2 separate regions of the Homo sapiens genome follow, and region 2 is linked to region 1. Evidence: fine-mapped expression QTL. A gene starts in region 1. The other region holds a variant in brackets. All regions are shown on one strand. Distances are between the middles of the regions.

Region 1 (5,378 bases):
AACCCCAGAACGCTGGCTGTCATGTCAATTCTGTCTCATGGCAACCTGGGACTCTAAAACCTTCAAGCTGTGACCCCACAACTCTCAGTGGAATTCTGTACTGAACATCAAGTCTGTTCTCTCCTAAATTCACATCTGGAGTCATGATACTAAAACCATCCAGACCATCTCCTGTAGAGAGAGTTTACTTGATTGCTGGGCTGTGGAAATATTGCAGGGGATTATTAGTCCCAAATTAGTGATAAGCAAGTGAAGGTCGGGGATGTGAAGGAACTTATCAAAAGTTGGGATAGGATGGCTCCTAATTCAGGTTTTCTCTGCTAAAAGACTGATTAACCTATGTGGGGTGGGAGATGGGCTGTGAATAAGGCTTGGGTCTGAACTCTAACCCTTACAACTACACTCGTCTTTTTCAGTTCTTCACTTACTCCCCAGCTCCTTTAAGCTTAATATTGCCTCAGAGCCTTTGCATATGCGGTTCTCTCTGCTTAGAACTTGGTTCCTCTGCGTCTCCCCATCTCCACTCTTCTAATTCCTCCCCTTTCAGATCTAGGCTTTCAGACCCAGGCTTCCTAGACCACCAGCTATAAGTTGATCCCTCTACTGTTCCCAATGTCAACATTTGTTTGTTTCCTTCTTAGCAGTTACCACAGTTATTATTTTTTTATTTTTCCTGTTTATCTGCTCCTTGCCTGTCTCCCCCACTAGACTGTACATTACTTGAGGGCCGGGACTCTCAAGTAATGTATAGTCTAGTGGGGGAGACAGGCTGACTCAGTGCACAGTGTTTGATAAATAAATGGACAAAACCCTGAGCCATCTAACCAGGAATAACTTTGGTCACTGTTTTAGTCTGGGCTGCTATAACAACATACCTTAGACTGAGGGGCTTATACACAACAGAAATTCTCTTCTCACAGTTCTGGAGGCTGGGAAGCCCTAGATCAAGGCACAAGCAAGTTGGGTGTTTGGTAAGAGCCTTCTTTCTGGACCTTATGTTTCTGGGCCTTTCTGGTTCATAGACAGCCCCTTCTCGCTGTGTCCTTCCATGGTGGAAGGGGCAAGGCAGCTAGCTCTCTGGGGCCTCTTGGGCACTAAGCTGGGCATGGTGGCTCACGCCTGTAATCCCAGCACTTTAGGAGGGTGAGGTGGGCAGATCACCTGAGGTCAGGAGTTCGAGACCAGCCTGGCCAACATGGCGAAATGCAGTCTCTACTAAAAATACAAAAATTGGCCAGGTGTGGTGGCGGGTGCCTAAAATCCCAGCTGCTCGGGAGGCTGAGGCAGGAAAATTGCTTGAACCTGGGAGGTAGAGGTTGCAGTGAGCTGAGATCATGCCACTGCACTCCAGCTTGGGTGGGCAACAGAGTGAGACTCCATCTCAAATATATATGTGTGTGCGTGTGTGTGTATATATATGTATATATGTGTGTATATATATGTGTGTGTATATATATGTGTGTGTATATATGCCTATACATATTAGTGCCTATATATGTATATATATAGGTGTATATATGTATATATATAGGTGTATATATGTATATATATAGGTATATATATGTAGGTGTATATATATATATAGAGAGAGGCACTAATCCCATTCGTGAGGGCTCTGTCCTCTCATGACCCAATCACTTTCCAAAGGCCCCACCTCCTAATGCCATCATACTGAGGATTAGGTCTGGACATACGAATTTGGGAGGGGACACACACATATAGACCCTAGCGGTCATCTAGTTTCTTAGTCTCACTCCAAAGCTGAGGCTCAGTAGGAAATACCGACTTGGCCAAGGTCATTATCTGAGAGTCAAGAACAGAACTCGCACACAGCCATCATCACCTCAAAGCCTTGAATTAGGCCGTCATGATGGGGCATAATGTGGGAGAATTCAAGGGCGCTGGGACAGATGCTTACTCCTCATCACCAAATCTAAGCAGCAGGCACTATCATCATCATCATCATCATCATCATCATCATCATCATCCTCCTCCCACCCCATTTTACAGATGAAGAAATCGAAGCTTAAGAGAGTCTGTGACTCCCTGGGAAGTGTAGGAGGAGGAGACTCGAACTTGGGCCTGCCAGCGAGGTCCGCGGGCGCTTAACCCGGCTGCTGCGGCTCGAGGCCTCGCTCTGCGGGTCTGTACAATGGGGCTGTCCGGGCCGGGTGCGCCGTGGGAAGAGCGAGGAGCGGGGAGGAAAACTTGGCGGGGCGGACTCGGGTTCCTCGGGTTCCAGCTGGCTGCTGAGGGGGTGGACGGAGGGAAGGGGGGGCGGTGGGGGCGGGGCGCGCGGGCTGGGCACAAAGGGCTCAGGCACAAAGGGGCCGCTGTCCCGCCGCGCCCCGCCCCGCCCCGCCTCTGCTGCCGCCCCCCGTCTGGTGGCCCGACCCGCGCCGCCCGCGGCTCCCTTATGTCTCTCGCCGTCTCCAGCCTCAGTCCCTCTCTGTCTCTCTCTCAGTCTCTCTCCCTGTCCTCCCCGGCCGCTCCTCCGAGATGACGCCGGGGTCGGTGCCCCGGGCCTGCCCTATCCCCTGGCTCCAGGGCTAGGCGGGACCGAGGGCTGCCCCAGACAGACGGACCCGCGGACCCACAGACCCCGCGCCCAGGAGAGGAGCCGCGCCGCCCGCCGCTGGCAGCCCGTCACCATGGTAACGCGCCAAGGCCTGGACCACCTCGCTCTGCCCCCTTTCAGTGGGCACAGCCCTCCCCATTCCCTGCAGAACAGCCCCGGGTGGCCCTGGCCTTTTACACTGAGACGACCCTCAGTGCCTTGGCAGGGTTGTGCTTACCTGCTTCCACCCCAGCAGGGGTTCAAGGGCAGGAGCCCATCTCTGGCCGCGTCCTCTCCTGGCTTCTCCATGTGTGTGTATGGATGGAGTAAGATTGTACTTGTAAACTTTAATATTCCCCAACCCCTAGACCTGAGCCTGAATCTCAGCCCTGAGGCTGAGGGCTGAAACGGGGTGGTTTTGCATGTTTGTTTTGGAACTGACTGTGATATGCACATTGTCCCGGCAGGGAGTTTGGATGGGGAAGAGTGGTGGTGGGGGTTAAAGTCCCCTCCCAGGCCAGCCAGGCAGTGCAGGGCGAGGAGGGTTAAGGGTCCAGGGTGAAAAGGAGAGAACTGCTTACCAAAACTTGGGATGCTTTTGCTGTTTTAGACTCAGCTATGGAAAGTCAGATATACACATTGAAACCCAGGGTGCTTCCATGGGAATTGGCTGGGGAGAGGGAAGAGGAAGGGACTTTTGGAGCTGGAACCTTGAAAAAAGTTGAGACATTCTGGGAGAATGTGTGTGTGTGTGTGTGTGTGTGTGTGTGTGTGGTGGTGGTGGTGGCAGGGATGCGTTTGTGCCAGTATCTGGCAACAGGGAATGAAAGAAAAGTCTGTTTTTGGAGGATTTCAGCCCAGCTCCAGACAGATACAAGAGCCCCAGGCAGATTCACAGGGGCTGTAAGGATTTTGAAAAAAGCTGTGAAGACAGGCCAAGGCTTTAACCCTGTGACTGTGACCAACCATGTTGAATTTGTGTGGGTTTTCACTCACAGCAAATGCATCTCCACAAGCAGAAGAATTCCATATAGAGGTGTTCATACTCTCTCTCTCTCTCTCTCACACACACACACACACACACGCAGGCACTCACACACACGTACACATGCACACACACGTACACATGCACACACACATACACATGCACGCACAGAGCACACCTGAATGCTCCCACTGACTCACACAGCTGAACACATGTTCACACCCTCTCATACACCCATGCCTTCTGCACCTGCTCCCCCATACTGCTAAACTATGGGCATACATTGGCATACACACCACAGACATATTGCAAAACCGGGCACCTACATCCATGCACTGCGGGGACAGGTGTACACACACATGGCTCTTGGAGCTGTTTGAAAATACTCTCATAAGCCAGTGGTTATTCACCTCTCCCTACAGGCAAGGCCCTGTGCTAGGTGATTTACATCCAGGAGTCAGTAACTCATACCAACTCTAAGATTAGACCTGCGGCTATCTCCAACAGATGGGGACCTCAGGCTCTGGGAACTTAAGTAGCTGCCCAAGGTCACCCCACCCAGAAAGTGCAAGTTAGGACAGTCTGAATTCTGAGCCTGCACTCGGCGGTCATGGTCACTCCAGGGCCACAGCGTGCACCTGGTGTTTGCCAAGCCTCTCCTGCTTTCACACCTAACCTAGTCATTAGAAACCCCTCATTGAACCCCAGATCCTCAGATCAAGGGTCAGGCACTGGTCTGCCCCCTGTCAAAGGGTGAGCAACTCTTTCCAGATTGGGAACAATGTGCAGATTTCCTTCCCTTGCCTGTTTTTTAAAGAATAAAGGTTGTTGCCAGCCTACCTCCCTGGCCTCACTTCTGTGCTCCAGCCACTCCAGCCTTGCTTGCGAGCCTCTTATGGTTCACGCTCCCTGCTGCCCCAGGGCCTTTGCACATGCTGTTCCTGCTTGGAGGAATACCTTCACCTAATGAATTCTTATTTACCCGGTAAATCTTCACCCAAATGTCACCTCTTCAGGAAAGCCTTCCCTGATTTCCCTGACTCTTACTCTAGCATGTCATGTATCTTTCCTTTATGATAACCCATCATAGCTGTAATTTTTGTGGGGCATTTGATTAACAGCTGTCTAGTGTTTGGGGGCACCCCCATGTCAGAGAATCTTATGGCAAAGGGGCTTAGGGTTGATCCTGTCCCATGGTTCCCAAATGTTAGTATCACTGAAACAACTTTTACACATCCACTTACTGGATAAAATATATAAGAAAATGATAAAATCTACTACTTATTATTTGCTCAATATTTTTCTTTAAATCAACTTACTTTGTACACTGAAAAATATATTTAAATAGAAAATTTTATATCACAACCATGAAAAAATCAGTATCCATTGTCATAAATAGAAAGTAACTAAGCCGGGCGCAGTGGCTCACGCCTGTAATCTCAGCACTTTGGGAGGCCGAGGCTGGCGGATCACCAGAGGTCAGGAGTTCAAGACCTGCCTGGCCAACATGGTGAAACCCCGTCTCTACTGAAAACAGAAAAAACTAGCCGGGCATGGTGGCAGGTGCCTGTAATCCCAGCTACTCGGGAGGCTGAGGCAGGAGAATCACTTGAACCCCGGAGGCGGAGGTTGCAGTGAGCCGAGATCGCACCATTGCACTCCAGCCTGGAGGACAAGAGCGAGACTTTGTCTCAAAAAAAAAAAAAAAAGTAACTATAAAAATATGTACTCAATGAAGGCAAATCTGTGTTAGTAAATTCTGGCTGGATGAGGTTGGTGGTGAACAATTTCAAGCCCGAGGACTGTTTTCTTTTGTTAAACAGAGTGATGAGTAAG
Region 2 (5,378 bases), 24 kb after region 1:
AAGGAGCCAAGCAAGGCTGTGGGCTGACCCCAAGGAGAGCACTGGGGCATGACCCGCCCCACAGAGCTGGCTCCAGCTGAAGGTGTAGGGGACTGGCCTTTTATAAGCCTTGTCTGTCAGTCATTAACTGTGGGCTGATCCCCAGTCTGTCCGTCATTAATGAACTGCAGGAACTTCGGGCTGATCCTGGAATGGGGTGGGGCAGGGGGAGCCAGTGATCCAGTTCAGCCCAGAGTGCTTCTTCAGAGAGGGGGCATCTGTGAGCCACTGACAACTGATACTTTCAGACTCTGGGGATGGGTTCTCTGCCTGCTGAGGGGATCTGGGTTTGGGGTACTAGCAGCATCCAATACAGAAGGTCTTATCACTCGTATTTAATATTTCCCCATTGTTGTAACAGACATTTACTGGTTCCTGGGCTTAGCACTGGCGATTCATAAGAGAACAAGTCTGATGTGTTCTCTGCTATCAGGAAACCTATATTCTAGTGGTGGGGAAAAGCCAACAGGTTATCACAACAGATTATTGAAACCCAGTGTAAACAAAGTGTGACAGTTGGGAAGGACAGGGGGCTGTGGGAGCACAGATGAGTCCCCTGGTTCAGGCTTAGGGTAGTAGAGGTCAAGGATGACTTCCCGGAGGAAGTAACGTAAAGCCCAGTCCTATGGTATGAGTAGGAATTATCCAGGTGAAGAGTTGGGAACGGCGTTCCAGACAAAGGGAACAGCATGTGCAAAGGTCCAGAGACAAGAGAACCACAGTGCTTTCTGGAGACTGATTGTCCTGAAATACTATTTTACTTCACAGACTTCCATATCTCTTCAGGACCTTGAGCACTGCCCTGTCTTTTTGCAGCTCCCAGGAGACCTTATCTGTCATTTTCCTGGTCATCTTTGCTGAAGCTCCTGCTGTTTGTTCCATATTAATTGTACACAAAGGATCTCATGATCCTCTTAGGGCCATCATGGGCCAAGGGCTCAGATTTTGTCCATGGAAGGCTCTGCTATGGGAGGAAGGTGACCTTTGTTTTAGTTCTAACTCTATCATTAGCTCCCTGTGTGTCCTTGGAGAAGTCACTGCCCTCTCTGGGCCTCCTTGAGAGGAGGAGAATAGACAGATAGGACCTGGCTCACTGTCACTCTTCCCTCAGTTACTTTTGTTGTAATTCTTGGGGGTTGCAACATGCACTGTTAGCTCGCACATGCCTGATGTGTAGCATGTGTGCAAAAAGCATTTGCTGTGTGAATGAGCAACGTCCACATGCGTGCTCCTTCTGTCCGTTTTTTGTCCTGCTCTTCTCTAGTGATCTTGTCCTCATTCCCCACATGACTCCCCCCATCGCATCCCCCGTAACCAACTTCTCCCCGCCGGGTTTTCATGTTAAGGCTCCCTCTCCTTTATTACCACTGCTTCTCTTTCCAGGTCACCCACTGCCCCAAGTTTCATCATCTTCAGGCCTCCCAAAACCTTGAACCTATTGGTTCAACCACCTTTTCACTCCCCTTTTCCAGCATGTCTCCCCACCCTCCACCACATCCCTTCCCCATCATCATATCTTCCTCACTCTCCACCACATCCCTTCCCCATCATTATGTCTCCCCCACCTTCTGTCACATCCTCACATCCCTTCTTCCTAGCTTAGATTCCAGGCTCACATTGTAATCACTTCCTTTCAAACACTCACTCGCTTGCTTTCCTCTTCCACCTTCACACTTACCCAGATAAATCCCAACCTCCGTGAGATCCAACTCTCCACCTGCACCCTCAAGCTGAACGAAGCTGGAAAAATCCACACAATTGTGCAGGCTAATTGTGTTGAATTCCTGACCACTGACCTCTGGGGGTCCCAATGGTGCTAGTGGATCCTACTTCACCTCCAGAGTCCTGAATGACTCCCCCACAGTCCTGTGTGATGACTTCACACCTTCTCTCTCCTTTGACCTTCAACACCACCTTCCCCAACTTAAATCTCAGCTGATGACCTTCCTTCTGGTCTGAGTGAGTAAGCAGAAGCAATTGGAAGGAAGTCTATGAATTGCTTCTGCTTACTCAGTCAGACCAGAAGGAAGGTCATTCACCTACCTGCTGGCATCTGTACCCACAGGCTCAGCATTCTAGTATGGATGAATTGTCCATGTGCCTGAGGCTGACCCTGAACCCGTGCTCTGTTCCTCTTTACCTCCTCAAAGACATCCCTCCAGCAAGATTCTCTTCTCCTTCCTACAGGATCATCTTTCCTCTTTGGCTCTGGGCCATTCCCATCAGGATGAGAACACGCTGCAATATTGCCCAGCTTGAAATGAGCTATTCTAGGCCCCCGTGTTCCCACCCTCACCCTTTTACATTAAAACTCCACAAAGCAGTTGTCTGTGTTCCCTGTTTCCACACCTTCTCTCTTCCACTCACTCTAATCAGAATCCCTTCCCCACTGTGCCACTGAGACACGTCTTGTCAAGGTCGTCATTGCGTTCCATGTTTCTAGATCCAGGGGTC[G/A]ATTCTCAGTCCTCATCACCCTAGGCCCTTCCGCAGCATTTGGCATGGATGGCCACTTCCTCCTGTTGAAAGGCTTTCTTCACTTGCCATTAGATCTTCAGTCACCCAGTCCTCCTCTCACCTCACTGGCCACAATTTTGCAGCCTCCTTTCCTGTCTCCTCATCTCCACAACCTGTAAATCCTGGAGGGCCCCCAAAGCCCAGTCCTTGGTCCCTTTCTCCTCTCCATCCACACTCACTTCCTAGGCGATCTCATCCTGGAGGTGGAATATTTTCTGTAAATGCTCTCTCCAGGCTGACAACCCCGACACTGATTTTTCCAGCCTGGGCCCTGGCCATGAACTCCAGACTTATCCATCCAGCTGTTTACTACTTGATGTCTCTGCGTGGAGGTCTCACAGACATCTCTAACTTAGCATGCCCAAATATGGACTCCTGACTTCACATCCCCTCACCCCACACTTCCCAACCTTCCAGTCTTTCCTCATGGCAGTAAAAGATGACCACATCATCCTTGATTGCTCTTTCTCTTACATCCCACATTCAATTTGTTAACTGTCAACTCTCCCATTAAATTGTATTCAGAATCTGTTGACTTCACCCCACCCAAGTCCAAACCAGCGTGGTCTCTTGCCTGCTGCAGTGGTCTCCTCGCTGGTGTCTCTGCGTCCACACCGGCCTCTGTTGGAGTTTCCTTATAGGGCAAACAGTCCCCAGAGCCTGTGCTTCAAGATCTAGATCTGCTCCAAGCCAGCCCTGTGAAGCAGGTCTCCCCGTAAAGTTTTCATAAAGATCTGTTCTCAGGAAAGAAACTGATCAACATGCAGGTGTGAATGTCTGCTCCCATGCTGGGGATGGGGTTTTGTTTAATAGGCACTGTGTTTCCCATTGTGGCCATAACAAGTTATTACAAATTAGTGACGTAAAACAACACAAATGTATTATCTGATCGCTCTGTATGTTAGAAGCTCAACATGGATCTCGCTAGGCTACATCCAGCTGTCTGCAGAGCTGCATTCTTTCCTGGAGGCTCTAAGGGAGACTCCATTTCCTTGCCTTTTCCAGCTTCTAGAGACCACTACTTTCCTTGGCTTGTGGCCCCTTCCTCCATCCTCAAAGCCAGCAATGTTGCATCTCCCTCACCCCCCATCCATCTTGGCACCTTGCTCCTACCAAAGCCAGGAAAAGTTCTCTGCTTTTAAGGATTCCTATGATTAGAGTGGATGATCCAGGATAATCTCCCCACCTCAAGGTCCTGCCCTTCATCACATCTGCAGTGTCCCTTTTGCCATGTAAGGTAACATATTCAAGGTTCTGGGGATTAGGGCATGGACATCTTTGGGGCCACAGGCACGAAGCCTTAGGAGAGGGCTTCCCTGTCTTTCCACTGGAAAATCCCTAATGCAGAAGAGAATGAACAGAGCCCCTGAGATTGAGACCTCACCCTGAGCTCTCAGTTGCTCCATATAGATCTTTGAAATCCTTTTTGCCTTTAAAATTTCTATACATTTTAAATATCCATAAATAGAATACATTCACACTCGTTTTGATATGAAAAAATGCTTTTAATTGCTTGCAAATTCAATTACTTACCATTCCTCCCTCCCCAAACTTGGAGTGACTCTTCATGCTGCTGGCAGATGCAACACATTTTTCAGCAACTTTGGGCAACCCCGACTTACCCACCACCCTCATTTTGCCATCCTCATTTTCACCTGAGGCTCACAATATCTGTGAACAGCACAGCTTCAAGCCACGGTTCTGAGATGCTAATGATGGTATTTCTGGCGCCAGCTGGTAGGTGAGGATAACATTTGGGGCAAAAGGGTCTCCTTGGCCCAGCTGAAGACAAATCAGGTGGACAACTGCCCCTTGCTGTAATCAACTCAGCTGGCACTGGGTGTGTGCAGGGCCCTGTTCCAGGCAGTGTGGGGAACCAGACATGTGAACTAATCGTATGACTACTGTGTCCCAGTGTGGAATGTCCTGAGTGTGTGAACCCTTTGCTGCTCAAAGTGTGGTCTGGGGACTACCTACATCAGCGTGACCTTGGAGCTAGGGGGAGAGGCAGAATCTCAGGCCTGCTGAACTGGCATCTGCATTCTAACAAGATCCCCAGGCCCATCAAAGTTTGAGAGGTGTTGCTCTAACCCTCCATTCCTTCATGAATCAATCACAGACATTGATTATCCAGCCTTGTGCTGAGCACAGGGATGCAACAATGAGTTTGACCCAGTGCACACCCGTAAGGGCTCTCAGTCTTGCAGGATCTCACAGAGGCCTACATTTGCTTTGGGAACCTGGGACTGGGGAAGAGCTTCTAAAGAGGGAAGGCAGTAAGGAGGTCTTCCAGGAAGAGGTGGCATCTTGGCTAGTCTTTGAGCGATGAGGGGGATTTCACCAGATAGAGATAGGACAGAAGGGCATACCTGGCAGAAGGAATAGGGTGAACAAAGCTGGGTGGTATCATCTGTCATTGGTGGCAAGGGGAGACTTAGTATATTAGTGTCCCAGGACTGCCATAACGTGGGTGGCTTAAGCAACAGAGATTCATTTTCTCATAGGTCTGGAGGCTGGAAGTCCAAGATCAAGGTGTTGGCAGGGTTGTTTCCTTCTGTGGCCTCTCTCCTTGGCTTGCAAATGCCCATCTTCTCCCTGTATCTTCATGGGGTCTTCCCTCTGTGTCCAAATTTCTTCTTGTAAGGACACTGGCCATATTCTATTAGGGCCCACAGTAACCTCATTTTAACTGAATTACCTCTTTAAACACCCTATCTCCAAATACAGTCACATGCTGATGTACTGGGAGTTAAGACTTCCACATATAAATTTGGAGGGGCAGGGGACACAGCTTCGCCCCTAACACCTAGTGTATGAAATGAGGA

Which allele goes with the higher level. Positions count from the first base shown, and alleles are read on the strand shown. Sizes are in standard deviations (SD) of each study's normalised expression.
With allele A in place of G in region 2, the expression in testis of the gene that starts at base 2,417 in region 1 is lower (moderate effect, 0.42 SD a copy in GTEx).

What was found. PIP is the estimated chance that this variant, and not a neighbour inherited with it, causes the effect. A credible set is the group of variants that fine-mapping cannot tell apart.
Region 2: its variant is the best candidate, but not a certain one, in a credible set for the expression of KIAA1755 in testis (GTEx, PIP 0.70).

What each region holds. Positions count from the first base shown.
Region 1 is chr20:38,257,774-38,263,151 of GRCh38, reverse strand. KIAA1755 reads left to right here and starts at 2,417. Exons shown (of 14, transcript NM_001029864.2): 1 at 2,417-2,654. The coding sequence starts at 2,652. LOC149684 (a long non-coding RNA gene) reads right to left here and starts at 2,977. Exons shown (of 2, transcript NR_104170.1): 1 at 2,796-2,977. LOC124904900 (a long non-coding RNA gene) reads right to left here. Exons shown (of 3, transcript XR_007067581.1): 3 at 5,291-5,378. RefSeq lists an enhancer at 2,160-2,659.
Region 2 is chr20:38,233,790-38,239,167 of GRCh38, reverse strand. All of the region lies in intron 4 of KIAA1755, which reads left to right. Among named protein-coding and RNA genes, the nearest start is that of KIAA1755, 24 kb to the left of the region's middle. The variant G/A (reference allele first, on the strand shown) is at 2,494.